4 linked regions of the Homo sapiens genome follow. The protein of the gene in region 1 purifies or fractionates together with the protein of each later gene. This does not show direct contact. Each region holds a gene or a part of one and is shown on either strand. Other genes may lie near its edges.

Evidence for each region.
Region 2: the proteins of DNAJC7 (region 1) and VPS13A purify together in Homo sapiens (affinity purification with mass spectrometry; 3 studies listed by BioGRID and IntAct, with this or other methods). This does not show direct contact.
Region 3: the proteins of DNAJC7 (region 1) and MTO1 purify together in Homo sapiens (co-immunoprecipitation; 3 studies listed by BioGRID and IntAct, with this or other methods). This does not show direct contact.
Region 4: the proteins of DNAJC7 (region 1) and MLF2 purify together in Homo sapiens (affinity purification with mass spectrometry; 3 studies listed by BioGRID and IntAct, with this or other methods). This does not show direct contact.

What each region holds. Positions count from the first base shown.
Region 1 is NC_000017.11:41,986,440-41,989,939, reverse strand, and holds part of DNAJC7 (dnaJ homolog subfamily C member 7), read left to right. Parts: intron 1-382; coding exon 383-536; intron 537-1,043; coding exon 1,044-1,208; intron 1,209-2,029; coding exon 2,030-2,121; intron 2,122-2,245; exon of another isoform or gene 2,246-2,345; intron 2,346-3,500. UniProt on the Homo sapiens protein: Acts as a co-chaperone regulating the molecular chaperones HSP70 and HSP90 in folding of steroid receptors, such as the glucocorticoid receptor and the progesterone receptor.
Region 2 is NC_000009.12:77,184,034-77,187,533, reverse strand, and holds part of VPS13A (intermembrane lipid transfer protein VPS13A), read right to left. Parts: intron 1-3,500. UniProt on the Homo sapiens protein: Mediates the transfer of lipids between membranes at organelle contact sites. Binds phospholipids. Required for the formation or stabilization of ER-mitochondria contact sites which enable transfer of lipids between the ER and mitochondria.
Region 3 is NC_000006.12:73,464,737-73,468,236, forward strand, and holds part of MTO1 (5-taurinomethyluridine-[tRNA] synthase subunit MTO1, mitochondrial), read left to right. Parts: intron 1-1,472; coding exon 1,473-1,672; intron 1,673-1,752; coding exon 1,753-1,870; intron 1,871-3,500. UniProt on the Homo sapiens protein: Component of the GTPBP3-MTO1 complex that catalyzes the 5-taurinomethyluridine (taum(5)U) modification at the 34th wobble position (U34) of mitochondrial tRNAs (mt-tRNAs), which plays a role in mt-tRNA decoding and mitochondrial translation.
Region 4 is NC_000012.12:6,747,496-6,750,141, reverse strand, and holds the end of MLF2 (myeloid leukemia factor 2), read left to right. Parts: intron 1-134; coding exon 135-294; intron 295-1,159; coding exon 1,160-1,347; 3' UTR 1,348-1,372; exon of another isoform or gene 1,373-1,594; 3' UTR 1,595-2,146; downstream 2,147-2,646.

The DNA of each region.
Region 1 (3,500 bases):
CACAGGGTCTCTGTTGCAACTAACTCAACTCTGCCATTGCAGTGCAAAGGTTGCCCTAGATAATAGATGAACCAATGGGTGTGGCTGTTTGAATAGTGTTTTATTTACAAAAACCAGTGGCAGAAAGGATTTGGCCCTGTGGGCTGTAGTTTGCCAAACCCTGTTCTAGTTTAATAAGGATTGTAAGACACAAGATGTGTATTAAAGATAATTATAGGTGGTTTATTTGGGGAAAGTTTGGGAACAGTTCTTGGGAATCTGTCTACCTTTGGATATTTTGAATGCTAGACACATGGTCAAGGAGGAAAACTGGCCACAAATGGTAGTAATGGTGGGGACATTCTAAAGCACAGCTCAATGTGCCCTTTTCTGACTATTGCAGTGACATTCTACGAATGGATTCCACCAATGCAGATGCTCTGTATGTACGAGGTCTTTGCCTTTATTACGAAGATTGTATTGAGAAGGCAGTTCAGTTTTTCGTACAGGCTCTCAGGATGGCTCCTGACCACGAGAAGGCCTGCATTGCCTGCAGAGTAAGTTCTAGTCACCAGACCTAACTGGGAAAGAGCTTCCTTTTGGGACCTTTAAGATGGCTAGAGTGGAAGGTTTTAGAATCACAAGGAATGTGATAGCTTTTCCTCCTGCTTTGCAAGGATGCTTGGTCTTTATTAGAAATGGTTTCAGGACTACTTGTATTTACCTAAAGGTAGATGTGATCATATAGGGTCGGATGCCTTTAATATCTAAGAGGGTTTTTTTGTTTTGTTTTTCCCCTCAGTGAAGATAGATAGTAATACTTGTCCTGAGAAGTGAAGGCAGACCCAGTAACATAGGTCTCATTGGTATTTTTGGTAACTCTTTTCCTGTCCACTCTGTAGGAAGCTCAAATGAGCAACAGATAGCCCAGATTGGGGGTTGGCGGGGCTCTGTGATGCTGAACTGCTGGAAGCAAAGAACTTGAAAATAGAGTCTGGCCTCTCTGTGCAATGGTCTGAGGCTTTGTGGATATGAACCGATCCTCCCCTTGCTTTTTTCTGTAGAATGCCAAAGCACTCAAAGCAAAGAAAGAAGATGGGAATAAAGCATTTAAGGAAGGAAATTACAAACTAGCATATGAACTGTACACAGAAGCCCTGGGGATAGACCCCAACAATATAAAAACAAATGCTAAACTCTACTGTAATCGGGGTACGGTTAATTCCAAGGTAAGCTCTTGATCTAGATCTTGGGGCCTATAGAAATATTTTTAAGGGACATCAAAGGGTCTTGGGAAATCTGCCTAGTGAGGGTAAGCAAGATGAAAGAGGGAAAGTTGTTATGGTTAATAGTTTGTTAGGAACTCCCTTCCAAGAGGCAAGCTTTTGTCATCTCTATGGAATTTGAGGGCAGTTGGACAATTTGCAAGGATATTCTCACCTGTTCATTAAGGTCCCTTTCCTCCAGTAAGAGAATGGCTAGGGTCTGTGGGATAATCTTAAGCACCTACTGTTGCTTTTTTGTTGTTTTGCTTATGCAAGTGATCATTTATTTTTTAGGAGTGATTTGGAGGAAGAGTATGAGGCAAGCTTGTTTTTCTCCAGTGTAATTGATGGTCACCATGCATGGTTGAAAATGGCCTGAGTGCTTTTGTGGCCCTACCCAACATCAGAAACAAAAAGTAGACTCCTTGCCCTTGCAGAATTCTAGCAGTTAAAAATCAGAGTGATTTCTGATCCCTGCAGGTGACCTCTGGAAAAAAGGAGGGCAGGAACCAGCCTTACTATTTTCATGTTTTCATTGGGCACTAACATGGAATGGTAAAGGTAGTTTATCCTTGAAGACAGATGTGCCTGGCTTGTATCATATACAAGAGAAATCAATTTTGAAGTTGCTGTCCATAGCCCTGGTGACAAAGAACTAGAACTTAATATGACATTTAAGGGGCCAGCATGACTGATCCTCTTAGAGTTTTGAAGCCATGCTCACAGCTTCTGGGCTCCCTCAGTCACCAAAGGTGTGAAGTATGATTGCTCTCTCTCTCCTGAAGCTTAGGAAACTAGATGATGCAATAGAAGACTGCACAAATGCAGTGAAGCTTGATGACACTTACATAAAAGCCTACTTGAGAAGAGCTCAGTGGTAAGTGCCTCTGATGGGTAGGGGGAAGAGGGAGTTGCCGCTGGCCTCAGGGGAATTGCCTTGTGGATGACGAAGCAGACCCAGAGATGTTGTGAGGTCATTTGGTCCTTCCCCCTGCCTCTAGGTGGGATTGTTCCAGCCCTAGACTATCTTTATAGACCTCCAGCGGAGGAGATTGCACAAGCTCCCTCAGTCTCCCATGCCTGTGTCTAACGCCCCTCACGGTCAGTAAGTTTCCTCTGATGCCTGACCCAAATTCCTTTTGTTAAAAAGTTTAAATCCATTTCCTTTGGAGATTTTATTTTGTGTTGTACACTTATGCTCTACCCTGGCACAGTGCTTGACACATAGGTGCTCACTGAATAAATGTTTTGTTGAATGAATGTATGGTGCTTGGAAGAGAAAACAACTCTTGGAGACAGTTGAGAGTTGTACTTCATCCTGTTTGTTCTGGGCGAGGGAAGACAATCTTAGAGTTGGAAGAGATGTAATCCGGCTCAGCCTCCCAGGATAAAGGAACTTCCTTTTGAAACACCCTGGATGGCTACTCTCTGCTTGAGTGTTTTGAGTGGAGGGCACTCTGTGTCTGACAGGGTGATTATGAGCCAGGATGTGCCTACCTCTAATGCTCACATTTGCCCCAGAGTCAGGGTGCTCCCTGGCATGGTTGCTCCTCTTACTCTTAGACCCACCAGCTGGTTTTCTCCAGATAGGAACAGGGCTAGGAGAAATCTTTCTCAGAAATCCATCTCTTCTGATTTCAGATTATTCTCTAGGCGGAGAAAAACTTCCCGTCTTTAAAGTTCTTAGAGAAGATGTATTTATTGTATACTAATCCTCCAGCACCTGCTCCACTCCTTATTATAAAATGTCATATCCAAAGAACAGATGCTGTCACTGATGCCTGATGAGCCAGTAGTTTAAGCTTCCTTGTCTCATCAGTGGTACAGAATATCTCATGGACTACCTCCCACTTAGTTTTCTCAAAATTATCTCACTTAAAATAGGAAAACTGCTGCTGTGTGTGATGCTTTTTTTAAAAGTGAATTTCTAAGTTGATGACTAAGTCTGTCCAACAGAAACATACAGGGAATTATAACTTCTGTGAGACTGACTGTCAGTCATTCCATCTTTGCAAACCACTGGCACACAGAAGCAGAAGCTTTGGAAGACAAAAAAAGCACCCTTTGATTCAGCCAAAGACTGACTTTAACAGACGCAAAATGCTATATACATGAAGGTGTTTGCTGCAATTTTATCTATAATAGCAAAAAAAAAAAAAAAAAAAGGCGGGGGGAGAATCACCTACATGTCCAGTGGGAAGGGGGTGGCTAGATACTTGATACTGTATGAACTTAATGGAATGCTCTGTATATGGA
Region 2 (3,500 bases), on another chromosome or scaffold:
GTTTCTCCAATTAAGATATACAAATGGTCAATAAGCCCATGAAAAGATGTTCAACATTACTAATTAGAGAAATGTAAATGAAAACTACAAGATACCACCTCATATCCATTAGGATAACTACTATCAAAAAAAGAGAAAATAAATGTTGGTGAGGATGTGGAGAAATGGTGACCTTTGTACACTGTTGGTAGGAATGTAAAATGGTGCAGTCACTATAGAAAGTAGTATGATAATTCCTCAAAAAAATTGATAATGGAATTACTATATGATCCAGTAATTCTGCTTCTGGGTATGTAACCCAAAAATCTGACAGCACAGACTGAACTTCAAAGAAAAATATCCACATTCATAACACCATTATTCACAACAGCCAAAAGGTGGAAGCTGCCCAACTATTCATCAACAGATGAATGGAGAAACAAAATGCAGTATATACATACAATGGGATACTATTTAGCTTGAAAAATTATTGAAATGCTGACATTTCCTACAACACGGATGCACCTTGAGGACATTATGCCAAGTAAAAGAAACCAATAACAAATGGCAAATACTGTATAATTCCACTTATACTTCAAGTATTCGAATTTACAGACATCAAAAGTAGAATAACGGTTACTGGGGTCTGGGAAGACGGTGGAATGGGTAGTCATTGCTTAACGGGTAAGTGGTTCAGTTTTGCAAGATGAAGAATTCAGGAGATGAATAATGGTGAAGTCAGGAGATGAATGGTGGTGATGGTTGCACAATGTAAGTGTACTTAATGACATGAAGTGTACACTTAAAATGGTTAAGATAGGCCGGGTGTGGTGGGTCACACCTGTAATCCCAGCACTTTGGGAGGCCGAGGCGGGCAGATTACTAGGTCAAGAGATCAAGACCATTCTGGTCAACATAGTGAAACCCCATTTCTACTAAAAATACAAAAATTAGCTGGGCATGGTGGCATGCATCTGTAGTCCCAGCTACTTAGGAGGCTGAGGCAGGAGAATCGCTTGAACCCAGGAGGCAGAGGTTGCAGTAAGCAGAGACTGCGCCACTGCACTCCAGGCTGGGCAACACAGCAGGACTCCATCTCAAAAATTAAAAAAAACAAATAAATAAAGGAGTTCTTCAGAAAGAAGGAAAATGATTTAAACCAAAAACTCAGATTCACAGGAGCATTAGAGAATTAAGAGATGAAGGTAAATTAAGTCTTTTCTTCCTTATTCTTAAATTAATAGAAAAATGTCTAAAATACTAATAGCAGCAATGCATTGGATTATTACAGCTTATAGGTAAGTGAAATTAATGACAACAATGTTACAATGGGCAGAAGGGAGGAATCTGTATACTGTATTGTAAGATAGAGTATTACATATACTACCTCCATTTTCCATGAAGTAGTATAGTGGGATTTTTGTTTTTGTGTTTTTTGAGACAGAGTTTCGCACTGTCGCCCAGGCTAGAGTGAAGTGGCACAATCTCGGCTCACTGCCTCCCAGTTCAAGAGATTCTCATACCTCAGCCTCCTGAGTAGCTGAGACTACAGGCGCACATTACCATGCTCAGCAAATTTTTTGTATTTCTAGTAGAGATGGGGTTTCACCATGTTGACCAGGCAGGTCTCGTACTCTTAACCTTAAATGATCCGCCAGCCTCAGTCCCCCAAAATGCTGGAATTACAGGCGTGAGCCACTATACCTGACCTATAATGTTATTTGGACGTGGACTTGGACTAGTTTTAAGTGAACAGCACAAACTGTAATACAACCACTTAAATAAATTGTTTAAGAAGCATAATTGGTATGCTAAGACAGGAGAAAAAAATTAAATCATATCACATGATCAATTAAAACCAGAGAGGGCAAAAGAGGAGGGGAAGACTGTTTAAAAAGGAAACAAGTATAACAAAACAGAAAACAGCTATAAATATGATAAGACACTGTCAAAGGAAAATAAAGGTTTTTCTCTCTACTCTCATATTCGACACAGAACCCTTAGATAACCAGATATGTGAAGTTTTTCCCCCAATCCCTAAACAATTCTCCAACAGACACTAACTATAATTCAATTAAATAATGACACTATCTACCTAGAAAGGGTGTCATATCGAGCCGGGCGCAGTAGCTCACGCCTGTAATCCCAGCACTTTGGGAGGCCAAGGCAGGTGGATCACAAGGTCAAGAGATCAAGACCATCCTGGTCAACATGGTGAAACTCCGTCTCTACTAAAAATACAAAAAGTAGCCTGGTGTGGTGACAGGCGCCTGTAGTCCCAGCTACTCGGGAGGCTGAGGCAGGAGAATCACTTGAACCCGGGAGGCGGAGGTTGCAGTGAGCCAAAATTGCGCCACCGCACTCCAGCCTGGCGACAGAGCGAGACTCTGTCTCAAAAAAAAAAAAAGAGATAATGTCATATCCCACATGGTAAGGGCTCAGTTCCATAAGACTGCCCCTCACTTCAGATGTCAGTCACAAGTCGCAGGCTGTGATCTGTGCTTCTGATTGACCAGCTATAAATCAGGGTTCGCACCTGATTTTATTTGGTTTGATAATTTGCTGGGATAACTCACAAAACTCAGGGAAATACTTATATTTAACAGTTTATCATAAAGGATATTACAAAGGATACAGATAAAGAGATGGACAGAGCAAAGTAAGGTGGTGGGGAGCTTCCATGCCCTCCCTGTTGTGGACTTTGGTATCTGCACAGGTCTTGGAACTAAACCCCTGGAGATACTGAGTGCTAAACATACACGTCATGACCAAATGGGATTTATTCTAGGTATGCAAGGCTAGTTCAACATTCAAAGATCAATTAATGTAATGTATCACACCAACAGATTAAAAAAGAAAAAAATCCTGTGATAATAGTAATAGATGCAGAAAAAAACATTTGACAAAATCCAGCATTCTTTTGTTTTTGTTTTTTTGAGACGGAGTCTTGCTCTGTCACCTAGGCTGGAGTGCAGTAGCACGATCTCGGCTCACTGCAACCTCCGCCTCCCATGTTCAAGCGATTCTCGTGTCTCAGCCTCCCAAGTAGCTGGGACTACAGGTGCCCGCCACCACACCCAGCTAATTTTTGTATTTTTAGTAGAGACAGGGTCTCACCATGTTGGCCAGGCTGGGCTCGAACTCCTGGCCTCAACTGATCTGGCCACCTCAGCTTCCCAAAGTGCTAAAATTACAGGCATGAGCCATCATGCCTGGCTCCAACATTCTTGAAGGAAAAGAAAACACTCTCAGCAAAGCAGAATAGATGTGTATGTATGACAGAAAGAAAAAAATTAGAGTATTTGTTGCCTCTGAAGATGAGGGTAGGAATAAATTAGGAAAGGTCAGGAAAAAGACTTTCTGGGGTGATGGTCATGTTCTATATCTTGACTGGGTTTGAGTTACATGTGTGTATGTATTTGTCAAAACTCAGTCAATGTACACTTAAGATTTGTATATTTTCTTCTACATAAATTTTACCTCAAAAGGAAAAAAACTAAGCAAATATTGCACTCTAATGA
Region 3 (3,500 bases), on another chromosome or scaffold:
AGGCAGGAGAATCACTTGAACTCGGGAGGTGGAGGTTGCAGTGAGCTGAGATCGTGCCATTGCACTCCAGCCTGGGCAACAAGAGCGAAACTCTGTCTCAAAAAAAAAAAAAAAAAAAAAAAAAACTTTTGGAGGTCTTGATTCTTGATGTGGTGGCAGTGGATATGTGGATATTGACATAACTTGCCCATCCCTCCACCTCCCACAAAAACTTTTGAGGTAACCACATGGGTTTAGACCTCCAGGTAAGACTGGGTAAATGTAAGGGAAAGGTATAAAATATGGTCTTCACTCACAAGAAATTTGTAATTTAATTATATTTAATTCTGCAAAGTAAGTGCAAAAAGGAGATATCAGATGGCATTTATGGAAGACATAATTGGTTGTAACTGAACCAGTGCCAAGGGGCTTCTTTGTTTTTTCTTTTTTCTTTTCTTTTTTTTTTTGAGATGGAGTCACTGTTGTCACCCAGGGTGGAGTGCGATGGTGCCATCTCGGCTCACTGCAACCTCAGCCTCCCAGGGTCAAGCGATTCTTTTGCCTCAGCCTCCCAAGTAGCTGGGATTACAGGTGCAAACTGCCATGCCTGGCTATTTTTTTGTATTTTAGTAGAGACGGGGTTTCACCGTGTCGCCCAGGGTGGTCTCAAACTTCTGAGCTCCAGCAATCCACCCTCTTTGGCCTCCCAAAGTGCTAGGATTACAGGCGTGAGCCACCACACCCGGCCCTGTTTTTTATTTATTTATTTATTTTTGTCCTTATTTATGTTGAAGGACTAGGGACTTCTTACAAGTGTGCTTGATTTGGTAGATTCCTCTGGTGCTGTATCAAAAAAGAACAAATTTAAAAACCAAGTATACTTGGTTTAGAAAGGTTTCATGGGGTAAGGATTACATGTTTGAAAGGAAAAGGCAACCTAGTGAAACAGTAAAAATATGCATCAAGGAAGAGATTCAAAAGAAAGTTCAGGCCGGGCGCGGTGGCTCACGGCTGTAATCCCAGCACTCTGGGAGGCCGAGGTGGGCAGATCACCTGAGGTCAGGAGTTTGAGACCAGCCTGGTCGACATGGTGAAACCCGTCTACCAAAAATACAAAAATTAGCCAGGCGTGGTGCCGGACACCTGTAATCCCGGCTACTCGGGATGCTGAGGCAGGAGAATCGCTTGAACCCAGGAGGCAGAGGTTGCAGTGAGCCGAGATTGTACCACTGCACTCCAGCCTGGGTGACAGAGTGAGACTCCATCTTAAAAAAAACAAAAGGAAGTTCAGGAAGTGGTTTGTCATCCAGGTTGCCCTGGACACTTTTGCATCCCATTGGGTCTTTGGGATTTTCTTTGTAGTATATCTTTCACGTTTTCTATTTTTTATCATATGAGATGATTATAGTCACCTGTATAAATGTTTCCTTATTAAGTAGTCACTATGTGCAAGGTGCTCATATATTTATTTTGTTTATGTCTATTATCTTTAGGTCAGATGTCATGTAATCCTTCCTTTGGTGGCATCGGAAAGGGACATTTAATGAGGGAAGTAGATGCCTTGGATGGCCTGTGTTCTCGCATCTGTGACCAGTCTGGTGTACATTATAAAGTATTAAACCGGCGTAAGGGACCAGCTGTGTGGGGTCTGAGAGCTCAGATTGATAGGAAACTCTATAAACAGAACATGCAGGTAAGAATAGGGCATGAGCACAGGAAAGATTATAGTGATTGTTTAATTACCATGTTTCAACTGGCATTTTCTTTTGACAGAAAGAAATCTTGAATACACCACTGCTTACTGTTCAGGAGGGAGCTGTAGAAGATCTTATTCTTACAGAACCAGAGCCTGAACACACTGGGAAATGCCGTGTCAGTGGGGTTGTTTTGGGTACGTATTGGTTATAGATGGTGTATGATAACAGCATATCAAATTCCATGTGAGAAATTTATTTTAGAGCAAAGTGTGGAGATATGTTGCTTATTCAAGGAACTTGTTGCATTTTCTCTACCTGGATGAGGAAAACTATATAAATAAATATGTTTCTCTTTTCATCTTGGCATTTATGATGCTCAGTCAAATTCTAGGCTCATCAGTACCATGTTCCATCTTAGTGTAGAACTTTGTAATCTGCATATTTATGTCTCCCTCTCTCCCCATCTTTCTATTGTAATTTCTGTTTTTTCTGGTTCTGACTTTAATTTTTTAAAAAATTCATATTTTAACAGCTTATATATATTTTTATGTAAAAGAGTTATGTATGTTTTTTATCAAAATAACTCATGCATATAATTTTTTCTTAAAATATTAAAAGGGTCTGGGCATGGTGGCTCATGCCCGTAATCCTAGCACTTTGGGAGGCCGAGGTAGGTGGATTGCTTGAGCCCCAGAGTTTGAGACCAGCCTCGGCAAGATGGCAAAACCTCATGTCTACAAAAAAATACAAAAATTAGCCGGTGTGGTAGCAGGTGCCTGTAGTTTCAGCTACTCAATAAGCTGAAGTGGGAGGATTGCTTGAGCCCAGGAGGTTGAGACTTCAGTGAGCTGTGATTATGCCACTGCACTCCAGCCTGGGCAACAGAGTGAGACCCTGTGTCAAAAAAAAATAAAAAATAAGTTTGGGTGTAGTGGCTCACACCTGTAATCCCAACACTTTGGGAGGCCAAGGCAGGCAGATCACCTGAGGTTGGGAGTTCAAGACCAGCCTGAACAACATGGAGAAACACATCTCTACTAAAAATACAAAATTAGCCAGGTGTGGTGGCGCATGCTTGAAATCCCAGCTACTCAGGAGGCTGAGGCCAGAGAATCACTTGAACCCAGGAGGCGGAGGTTGTGGTGAGCCGAGATCACACCATTGCTCTCCAGCCTGGGCAACAAGAGCGAAACTCTGTCTCAAAATAAATAAATAAATAAATAAATAAATATAAAAGAAATTTAGAAATTTATGTGGGAAAACAACCATCTCCTTCCCTGGAGACAGACACTTCAGCTTTTTTAGTTGTCACTTATTGTATATACTTCCATATTTCTGAATAGCAGGCTTATCTTTTTACTTCCTAATTTACAGTTCTAGACATTATCTATTAACTTTTTTTGTTTGTTTGTTTTTGTTTTTGTTTTTGAGACGGAGTCTCACTCTGTGCCAGGCTGGAATGCAGTGGTGCGATATCGGCTCACCACAACCTGAGCCTCCCGGGTTCAAGCGATTCTCCTGCCTCAGCCTCCTGAGTAGCTGGGACTACAGGCACGTACCACCATGCCCAGCTAATTTTTGTATTTTTAGTAGAGATGGGGTTTCACCACGTTGGCCAGGATGGTCTTGTTCTCCTGACCTTGTGATCCACCCGCCTCGCCCTCCCAGAGTGCTGGGATTACAGCTGTGAGCCACCGCACCCAGCCATCTATTAACATTTTTTGAGACAGAGTCTGGCTCTGTTGCCTAGGCTGGAGTGCAGTGGTACCATCTTGGCTCACTGCAACGTTCCCCTCCCAGGTTCAAGCAATTCTCCTGCCTCAG
Region 4 (2,646 bases), on another chromosome or scaffold:
GGATTGAGCGGCACCGCCAGAAACCCTGGCTGCTTTTTTCCGGATTGGGTTGTGTGTGGTGTGTTTATCCTGAGATGGTATAGGCAGGGCTTTGGAAGGGGCGGCTGAGTGTGCCACGTTCTGCCTCATCCCAGATCCGGGAGACACGGAGGACTGTTCGGGATTCAGACAGTGGACTGGAGCAGATGTCCATTGGGCATCACATCCGGGACAGGGCTCACATCCTCCAGCGCTCCCGAAACCATCGCACGGGGGACCAGGAGGAGCGGCAGGACTATATCAACCTGGATGAGAGTGAGCCTTCCCTCCCGCTTCCTGGCTGGCAGCCCCTAACCCGGTTCCCGTGGACATCCCTAACACATAGACACTTCTGGGGCAAAGCTCTGGGTCAGCCCCATATTCCTTTTTTTTTTTTTTTGAGATGGAGTCTCGCTCTTGTTGCCCAGGTGCCCAGGCTGGAGTGCAGTGGCGCGATCTCAGCTCACTGCAACCTCCGCCTCCCGGGTTTAAGCAATTCTCCTGCCTCAGCCTCCCGTGTAGCTGGAACTACAGGCATGTGCCACCACGCCCAGCTAATTTCTGTATTTTTAGTAGAGACAGGGTTTCACCATGTTGGGCAGGCCGTTCTCGAACTCCTGACCTTGTGATCCACCCACCGACCGTTGGCCTCCCAAAGTGCCGGGATTACAGGCATGAGCCACTGCACCCAACTGTCAGTCCCATATTCTTACCGCACTTGGAGCCTCCTCCGCTCGGGCGGAGTCAGGTGCTGGCGGTGTCTTTGTGAGGGGCCTACTTTGTCCCTGAAGTTCCGTATTGATAGTGTTACACCCTTCTCCACCTTGATCCGTTTCTTTCTCCCCTCTTTATCTTTTTCAAATCCGCAATTATTAAGTACCTAGTGTGCACATAGGACTGTGAACCTGAACTGAAGAATAATCCCATTCTGATTTCTTCCTCCAGTAGGCCACCTTACGCCTACCGGTGGCTTCCTGGGACCGTGCAGAAACCAAAAGAGCTAAGGGAATTGCCACCCCACCCATCCCTGCACGCACACTCAGCCTTCGCCGCTTTGGCCCGAAAAGCTGTGGCTCGCTCGCACATCGGCCTCCAGGAGCCAGGCCGCACACAGGCCTCATGTCCGCTCTGTCCTTTCCAGGTGAGGCCGCAGCGTTTGATGACGAGTGGCGGCGGGAGACCTCCCGATTCCGGCAGCAGCGTCCCCTGGAGTTTCGGCGGCTTGAGTCCTCAGGGGCTGGGGGACGAAGGGCGGAGGGGCCTCCCCGCCTGGCCATCCAGGGACCTGAGGACTCCCCTTCCCGACAGTCCCGCCGCTATGACTGGTGAGGGCCCCGGGCCCTCAGCCTCTCTTGTAAGTATCAGGAGTAAGGAGGGTGGGGTGCACCTGCGGACGGTCCTCGGCTGCAAGGCAGGCTCAGTTCAGGCTCCCGCAGGAGCTGCCTTTGGTAGTACAAGTTGACATGGAAAGAGAACAATGTTCTCACTGACATAGGGGATTAAACCCCAACTCCTGGCTCTTAACGTAAGTTTTTTCTTCCTTTTGACTTGTGCTCCTCTCTCTTTCCCCCTCCAGGTACAGGCTGAGAGGCTGAGAAATCATCCCCTGAATAACTTTTTCCTCTCGATTCCCATCCCCAATTTAATATTAAATTAACAGGCAAGCCGGCCCCCACCTCTCCCTGGGGGTCTCAGGGAGAACCTTTCACGGCACCCTTTCCCTACCTTTTCCTTCTTTAATCTCCTGGTTTACCATTGATGACTTCGCCTCTGCATCTACTGACTTGATTTTTCATTCTGCCACTCCATCTTCAAACCCCCTCACCTTTCCCATCCTACTCCTGCCATGCATTGAAGGGTCAATGCATTTTGGGGTGAGCTCTGGGTTTAGGGGCCCCCTCCATCCCTCAGCTACCCTGGATCTTTGCCCACCTCTTCCTCAGAGCCCCCACTGAGGGGCCGTAGCCCTATCTAGGGCTGTGGAAGGAGCAGACTGGTTCCTAACTCTCTCCCTCCTCCTGCCCACACACATCAAAAGAATCTTCCCTACACCCTTCTCTGCCTTTATTTTTTGATTTGTGCAACTTGTAACTAGGTGTTTATGGAATAAAGGAGAATGGAAAAAAGACCAAGTGGGATTCTGGCTGTACTTTTGATCTTTTCCTGTTCAATTCAACCCTGCTGTCTCCTCTGAAGTTACCTTCTCACTTTTCCTCGTCTCCACCTGTAGTCTTCGTACCTCAGAGTTCAAGCCCACATCTCCTTGGTACGGACAGACCATCAGCACTGCCAGGTGCAGGCCGTGAGCACTTGGCTGGGCTAGGCTGGGGCGTGAGAACATGAGCACCTCTCTCGCTGGCTCTTCCCTCACATTCTGCTGTAACTTTGCTCTTCAGGGATGTGTTGGGCATCTCTCATGGGTGCCTGCGGAACTTGCTGCCCCTTGCCCCTTGGACAGAGTTTCTTTCCTGCACTCTGGGTGGAAACACTTCAGATAACCCTACACAGGCCTTCAGAGGGGAGGAACTCTGGTCTGCAGCGTTCCACAAACCCTCCACCCACAGTAGTTGAGAATTTGAGCCCAGGGAAGGAGCCTAGAGAAGAAAACTAACCTGGAACCTGAGCAGG